Regions from separate parts of the Homo sapiens genome. Here regions 2 and 3 are each linked to region 1. Evidence: fine-mapped expression QTL. A gene starts in region 1. Each other region holds a variant in brackets. All regions are shown on one strand. Distances are between the middles of the regions. Region 1 holds the start of ZNF667-AS1 (ZNF667 antisense RNA 1). Region 2 overlaps ZNF470 (zinc finger protein 470). Region 3 overlaps ZNF667 (zinc finger protein 667).

What was found. PIP is the estimated chance that this variant, and not a neighbour inherited with it, causes the effect. A credible set is the group of variants that fine-mapping cannot tell apart.
Region 2: its variant is the best candidate, but not a certain one, in a credible set for the expression of ZNF667-AS1 in whole blood (TOPMed, PIP 0.56).
Region 3: its variant is the best candidate, but not a certain one, in a credible set for the expression of ZNF667-AS1 in subcutaneous fat (GTEx, PIP 0.51).

What each region holds. Positions count from the first base shown.
Region 1 is chr19:56,476,507-56,479,275 of GRCh38, forward strand. ZNF667-AS1 (ZNF667 antisense RNA 1) reads left to right here and starts at 1,368. Exons shown (of 2, transcript NR_036521.1): 1 at 1,368-1,875. It overlaps ZNF667 (zinc finger protein 667), which reads right to left and starts at 839. Exons shown (of 7, transcript NM_001321356.2): 1 at 766-839.
Region 2 is chr19:56,581,778-56,584,546 of GRCh38, forward strand. It overlaps ZNF470 (zinc finger protein 470), which reads left to right. Exons shown (of 6, transcript NM_001001668.4): 6 at 1-1,117. Among named protein-coding and RNA genes, the nearest start is that of ZNF71, 12 kb to the right of the region's middle. The variant T/TC (reference allele first, on the strand shown) is at 1,279.
Region 3 is chr19:56,441,632-56,444,400 of GRCh38, forward strand. It overlaps ZNF667 (zinc finger protein 667), which reads right to left. Exons shown (of 7, transcript NM_001321356.2): 7 at 1-1,110. Among named protein-coding and RNA genes, the nearest start is that of ZNF667, 34 kb to the right of the region's middle. The variant C/A (reference allele first, on the strand shown) is at 1,103.

The DNA.
Region 1 (2,769 bases):
GTGATTAGTATGTGACAAGCTCTGTGCAGGGTGTTTCAGCTACGTCATCCCATTTAATCTTCCCAATAACACCCAGGCAGGTGCTATTAATATGCTATTTTACCAAGGAGGAAAGTCATGCACAATTAAACAGTTCCACAGATTTCCAGGGCAGCCCATCACATCTTAGAGCTGCTAAGAATTCTTCCCCTGTGGGCCTCCATTTCCATGGTTACAGTGAGATATACACCAGAAAGGCACAGTCACACACTCATAACCGCAAAGCCACTGACGCTAAGTGGCAGACAGACGCCCAGGCAAGTCACACAGTAACCCAAGGCTACAATAAACGCCCACATCAGCCTGACACTGACACACGCACACACTCCAGAAACACAAATCTTCACAGTCAGCGTCACACACCCACTCCCGGCTTCCCAATGGCTCCATTGTTTCCTTCGCGTGGGTCACGCAGCGATACACATCCGCGGTCCCGACATAGCTCCCTCACACACAGGCACACACGGCTCGCCTCACACGCGGCGCCAACTTCACACTTGGGCGCACAAGCCCCGAGAACCACAGCAGCGAAGGGCGCAAACCCCACGCCGTGGCGGGCCGAGAACCCACGCAGGCGCGAGCCCACCGCCCACGCAAGCACCCGCGCAGACGCCCACGCCATCGTGGATGCGCAAACCCACGCGCGCCTTGGCAGGAACGTCCACGCAGTGGCGGGCGCGCCGCCCACGCCCTCAGACACACCCACACTCTCGCCAGCCCCCTTACCTCGGTCTTCCCGGGCTCAGACCCCGGCGGCGACCACCGAGACAGCCGAGCAGGGACTCAGCGCCTGCGCACTCCCCTCCGGGACCCCGGGACCGCGCGCTGCACCCCCCTTCACACACGCACCACGCATGCGGGCGCGTGGCCCCGCCCCCAAACAAGGCCACGCGGCGTGCGCTCACCCGCCTCTCGGGGACAGTACCACCAGCCCCGGCCTGAGGCCCCGACCCCTCAGCGCCACACGCACAAGCGCGTTCGCACGATTGGTGCAGGCGGACGCGCGAGGTCCCGCGCCTGCGCACACCCCCGAGGCTGGCACGCACACCGGTCTCCTAGGGGACTGGCGCCTGGCCCTGCTTTTCATCCTCTCAGGAGATCACGTGTGGACACTGAGGCCCTTCCTCGAGCTCTTTAACCAAACCCAACCTCCCCAATTCGCCGCCTTCCCCGCTCCCACAACCACACGTTCCCGTGTGAGGGCTTATTGCCTCCAGCCAGCCAGCGTCCTTCGCCCCCACATTCACGAGGTTTGGAGCCGGCCTCACCCGCGGAGGCGGACACCGCCCACCCGCGCGTGCGCACTACGCAGTCATCCTGCGACCTCCAGAATCCACCGGGGTGCAGCGAGGCTGTGGAAAGTCCCACCCAGAACGTGAGGTGAAGAAGGCTTGGGCTGCGCTGGTTCTGCTCTGTCCGGGTCGGAGATGAACTGACCCGGGAGAGCAGCGGAGGGATGTTTCTTTTGGCCAACAGTGGGGACTCACCTGCACGTTTTGCGAAGAGGCCCACAGTCCTTTGCGTGGCGCTCGGACTACATTTCCCAACGGCCCCTGCACGCCCTGGGGGCTGTTCCATGCGGTGTTGCGCCTGCGTAGCCGGCGGGCTGGCAGTGAGACTGACTGCGTCGGGGTTGAGACTGGGTGGATGAGGCTCACCCCGGCGGGGAGAAGGGACGAGGAGGGGCGGACAGCGGAAGGTCCGGGAGTGTCCGCCATAAAGTCGTTTGAGGTGACCGTTGCGTAATTGTGAGTCTGTGAGAGAAGATGTGAAGTATGGCCTCGTCCCGGTCATCTGGGCGTGCGGGTCCCGGGTTTTGATCGCGCGTTTGTGTAGGTGAGACCCACATTGTGTTACCCTGAACATGTGTGAGGACGAACCTTTGTGTTTTCTTATACGTGTGTCTCTGAGGCGATTTTTGTGGTTTTGTACGTGGCGGGGGGCACTGATTTTGAATATGTGTGTATGTTCTGGACATTTGTTTAGCTTCTGCATCCACTTCTGCGGAAGGGCAGAGTTGAGTAGGTGGGAACAGGTACTGTGTGGCCCCACAAAGCCTGAACTATTTACTGTTGACTCTAGAGCCCAGTTTTTGCGGTGTGTACGTCTCTGTGGGGAACCACACATTTTGAATATGTATACTTGTGTATATTTACGTCTATTCTATGACTGCTTTTGCACAATGGCAGGGTTCAGTACTTGCAGCAGAGATCTTGTGGCCCATAAAGCCTAAAATACTATCCGACTAAGGTTTCGAGCCGTAGCCAGTTTTTGTGGATGAGTGTTGTGTGTGTGTGGGAAGCCAGTGATTGATTGATTGATTGATTGATTTGGGACGGAGTCTCGCTCTGTCGCCCAGGCTGGAGTGCAGTGGCGCGATCTCGGCTCACTGCAACCTCCGCCTCCAGGTTCAAGCCATTCTTCTGCCTCATCCTCCCTAGTAGCTGGGACTACAGGCGCCCGCCACCACGCCCGGCTAAGTTTTTTGTATTTTTAGTAGATTCGGGGTTTCACCATGTGGGCTCTTGACCTCGTGATCCGCCCGCCTCGGCCTCCCAAAGTGCTGGGATTACAGGCGTGAGCCACCGCGACCGGCCAAGGAAAGCCAGTGTTTTTGACTCTGTGTGTGTGTACCCGCCTGTGTGTTGAGACCCAGTTTTTGTAGTTGCATAGGTGGGTATATGTGTGAGGGGAACCCAGGGCCTGTGATTTCTTTCTTCCCAGGTGACT
Region 2 (2,769 bases), 110 kb after region 1:
GGCCATACCCTACCATATGTTTTTGATGGACGTGGCCAATAAAATTGTCTCTGAATTTCAAAAGGCATTTGGATCTGTGTCATCCAATGGCAACTCCCTAAAAGCTGATGCAGTTATTCTTTTGATTGGTCCTTGGAACCACCCTGGTTTTTGTACTTTCCAAGTCTGTGATTCCTCAAACTACCCATTGTCTTTCCGGTACTTGATTTTTGCCTCCTGTTGGTCAGTTGCTTGCAAGTAAAGAAACAATCATACAGAATTTGGTACGAAGATTGGGTAATGGGCATTAGAATCTTTGGAAAAATCAGGTATTGGGAGTTGCTTTTTGGATGAGATGGGGCGAATAAGACTTATATTCTAGACTGGAAAGCATCTCATGGTGTGCGATGAGCAAACGCCTGATTATTCATTATAGTCACCTGGGATGAATAGAGGTCTAGGGTTCTGGATAATGATAATTTAAGGAGGATGGAGAATGCTGAATCCAAAAGGTATATGTAATACTGGTATCTAACTGCTTGGAATAACTTAAAGTTTAGCTCTTGAATTTCTAGCATTAAGGCAAAAAAAATTCACCTAAGGGATTTTGTATGATATTGTTGAAAGATGTCTTACATTGTTTAAAGTCATAGGGTTAAGATGGCTCATAACCAAATTTAGAGACTATTTTTATGCATTGTTAAAGTGGAATGCTGGTTAAATTTTATACTTTATTCACAAGAGTCACTGTGAATTGAATTGTGAATTCAGTTCTGAATTGTGTTCCCACCAGCACCACCAAATGCTGGCCTCTACCACCACCAAATTTACTTGTTGAAGTCCTAAACCCCAACATGACTGTATTTGGACATAAGGCCTTTAAGAAACTAAGGTTAAGTTAGGCCATAAGAGTGAGGCCCTAATCCCATAGGACTAGTGTCCTTATAAGAGGAAGAGACACCAGAGGTTTGTCTCTCCACATGTGCACAGAGGAAATGCTGTGTAAGGACACAACAAGAATGCTGCCATCTGCAAGCCAGGAGGAGAGACCTCACCAGGAACCAGCCCTGCCAGCACCTTGATCTTGGACTTTTAATCTCCAGGACTGTGAGAAAATAAATGTTGGTTGTTTAAGCCACCCAGTCTGTGGTATATTGTTACGGCAGCCTGAACTGATTAATGCAATTACCATATAATTTATTGTTCAAACTGGGACATTTTTGAGAGTGAAAGGAGTAGCTAACTGCACAGGGCACTTGACAACAGGTGTTCATATCCTCAGCAAAGCAGGATATATGG[T/TC]CATACTTCTTGTGTAACAGAATATTGAACAGAAAAAAATATAGCTCTACTATTGGAAAGGTGATATTGGAGATGAGCCAAAGGATTGGAATATACTGAACTTCCGGATTCGTGTGATATACCACCTATTAACATCTGTTTGCATAGGTACATATGGCTGTTCTGAAGAGACAGCTAACAGTTCATCTTATTCCCCCATTCCATTGTTGCTCACATGGAATAACAAAGTGAATTTAACATGACCATAACATTAAATGCAAAAATCAGGCTGAGCACAGTGGCTCATGCCTGTAATCCTAGCACTTTGGGAGGCCCAGGCAGGAGGATCATTTGAGACCAGCCTGGGCAATGTAGCATGACCCTATCCCATATCTAAAAAAAAATTAAATTTTCCAGTCATGGTGGCACCTAGCTACTCGGGAGGCTGAGGTGGGAGGATTGCTTGAGCCCAGGAGTTCGAGGCTGCAGTGAGCCATGATCACACCATTGCAATCCAGCTTGGGTGACAAAGCCAGACCCTGTTTGAAAAATAGATAAATAAAATCATACATATGTACAAAATTAAAATAGGGCAAAGAGTAACTGTATCTTAGAAGAATTTTCGGCAGTTAGTTTACTAGTGTAGATTAAGAAAAATCTAGGGCATTTGTGGAAGTGAAATTTGAGGAGGCTGAATATATTGACAAAGTAGCTTGAGTAGCCTGCCATGGTTCTAAGAATTTGTTGAACTCATCCATGTACCAAATGCTGGCCGCTAATAAATTACATTATAAGGCCAGAAATCTCTTAACATAATGTAAAGGATGTTGTTCAGACTTCAAAAGGCAGGATTGCTGGATTGGTTCTTGTGTTGCAACATCAGGTCTCCTGACAAGAGTCCAGAAACCTATACATTCATTCTTCCCGTGAGAAAAACACCATTTGTCTAATGGATTTTAAAACCATTACACCGACTCTCTGGCAGATCAAGAATGCTATGTAGAGAGGTTGTAACTGAAGGAGCATCTCTGATCAAAAGACTAATTGAAATGGGAATGACACCAAACTGCCCCACCAGGTGAGCCTCCTCTGGGACTAATGTGACTTCAGAGAGAGCCTTTAACTCAGCATGGCCTGAGAGTCCTTGGGCAGATTGGGGCCTTGGGGAGGTTTTTTGGGGCTCCTGGTGGCAGAAGCAAAGAACAATTTAAAAATAAGGTTTAAAAAATTCTACCTACAATAGCATCAAAAGGAATTAAATACTTAGGAATCAACAAAAGTACAAAAGTTAGATTCTGAAAACTATAAAATATTGTTGAAAGAAAATCCCATATTTATGCATTGGAAGGCTTAATATTATTAAGATGGCAATGCTTCCCAACATTATCTACATGTTCAATGCAATCTAATTTCCTTTTTGTGGGAATTGATAAGCTGATCCTAAAATTCATATGGAAGCACAAGGGACTCAGAATAGCCAAAACAATATTTAAAAAGCAAAACAAAGCTGGA
Region 3 (2,769 bases), 35 kb before region 1:
GGCGGCCGAAAACTTTACTACATTTATTGCATTTGAAAGGTTTCTCTTCAGAATGAATATTCTGATGTATTTTAAGGTTTGCAGTTCCAGAAAACATCTTCCCACATTCCTTACACTCAAATAGTTTCTTTTTCTTTGTATGAACTTTCTGATGTTGAATAAGGGATGAATGCCGATTGCAGACCTTCTCACATTTATTGCATCTGTATAGTTTTTCTCCATTATGAATTCTTAGATGCAGAATAAGGGTTGAAAGCCGCCTGAAGAACTTGTCACATTTATCACATTTGTACGGTTTCTCTGAAGTGTGAATTCTCTGGTGAAGCATCAGGGGTGAAATCCTATTAAATAATTTCCCACATTTTCTGCATTTAAAAGGATTCTCTAAATGGTGACTTCTTTGCTGTAGACTCTGACTTAAGGCCTTCGCATTTTCAGGGATTTTCTCTCCAGCATGAATTCTTTTATGTACAACAAAGACTGATTTCTTTTTGAAGCCTCTCCCACATTTATTATATTTATGTGTTTTCTTTCCATTGTGAATTTTCTTATGAAGTAAAAGGGATGACATCTGATTGAAGGCTTTTCCGCACTTTCTGCACTGGCAGACATTCCCAACAACATGAATTTTCTGATGTATATTGAAAGACTGACATTGACTCAAGGCCTTCCCACAGTCAAGAATTTCCTTTCCATCATGAATTCTCATATGTAGAATAAGGGTTGTTCTTTGATTGAAGCTTTCCCCACATTTATTGCATTCATGGCTTTTCTTTCCACTGTGAATTCTCTGATGAAGTAGGATGGATGAGATCTGTCTGAAAGCTTTTCTACAATTACTGCATTCAAAAGGCTTCTCTCCTGTATGAATGTTCTGATGAAGTTTAAGAGAGAAGCTTCGACTAAAGGTTTTACCACAGTCATTACATTTTAAAGGTTTCTTCCCTGAATGCCCTTTCTTAGGTTTTACTAGGACTGAATTTTTGTTGCAGCCACTCTTTCGTGTAGGAGCTTTTTGTTGTGCAGAAACTAGTTTCTGGCAGATGCTTTGCCCAGATTTGTTGCATTGATTTGGAGGTAACTTCTTGGTCTCACATTTAGA[C/A]CCCGAGTCTGAAAGACATAAAGGAATTAAATGTTTCTCCTTTTCCATGCTGAAAAAATGAAGATTCTACAATATAAATGTAATTATCATTATTAATCACAACAACAATTATGATTACCAAAACATAACTTTTTAGTGTTTTATTGTGGTTTTGATGACTATACTAAAGGCTTTACAGAGATATTTAATAACCAGAGTTCAGAAGAGTGTAATTTGAAAATGAATAAGATTTTATTTATACGATAACTTTTATGCCATATACGGCACATTGAACTCCACAGGTTGTTCAATGGATAAATGTATGTTTATTAGAGAATGTGTCCAGAAAAGGTAAGTCTACAGAGACAGAAGATAAGTGGTTGCCTGGGGCTCAAGGTAGGAATGGGGATTAACTGAAAATGGACATGAAGAATCTTACAGGGGTGATAAAAATGTTCTAATACTGGATCATATTGATGGTTACACACTCTGTAAATTTATCCAAAATCATTTAATTATATTCTAGATATAGTGACTTTTATGATGTTTACCTCAATAAAGTTGTAGATTTTAAAAAATGTATTCTTAAGATCAAATTTAAAAAGAACTAGTAAAAATTAGAATTGAGTACAGTCACGGGTTGCTTAACAATGGGAACATGTTGTAAGACATGCATTGTCAGGCAATTTCATCATTGTGCAAACATCTTACAGTAGATTTACATAAACCTAGATAGTATAGCCTACTATACACCTATGTTATATTGTATAGCCTGTTCCTAGGCTACAAACCTGTACATGACGTTACTGTATTGAATCCTGTAGGCAATTTTAACACTATGATAAGTATTTATGTATCTAAATATACATAAATGTAGAAAAGGTACAGTACAAATAACAGTTTTATGATCTTATAGAACCATGGCCATATATGTAGTCTGTTGTTGACTGGACTGAAACATCATTATGCAGCATATGACTGTATTTAGATATTTACAAAGGTGAAGTCTTTAGCAAGAAGCAGGAAAAGCTCAGAAAAATAGGTAAGAGATTAGACTAAAAGAAGGAATCTATTTTGTAGTAAAATAGATCAATATGGCTGGCATAGGGTGCCAAAGTCCAAGGTGATATAAAATAACTACTTGTATGGCAAACTGACTATAAACCTGAGTGAATGTGGCATGATAAACACAGGCTTTAGAACTATGCTATCCAATATAGTAGCCATTAGTCACCTGTAGCTACTGAGGAATTGAAATGTGGCTGGTTTGAGGTATACTATGAGTATAAAACATATGCCAGACTGTGAAAATTTACTACAAAAAAGTATAAAGTATCTCATTGTAAAAATGCTGGTTATATGATATAATATGTTGGATATATTAGGTTAAATACATATATTACTAAAATTAATTTTACCTGTTTGTATTAGGAAGTTCCTATATTGCTATAAATAAATACTTGAGTGGGTAATTTATAAACAAAAGAGGTTCAATTGGCTCCTGGTTCAGTAGGCTGTACAAGCATGGTGCTGGCACCTCCTTGGCTTCTGGGGAGGCCTCAGTGAGCTCTTACTCATGGTGAAAGACGAAGTAGGAGAAGGCACATCACATGGTGAAACAAGGAGAGAGAGTGTGGAGGAGGTGCCACATATTACAACGATCAGATTTTGTAAGAATCACTCCCTAT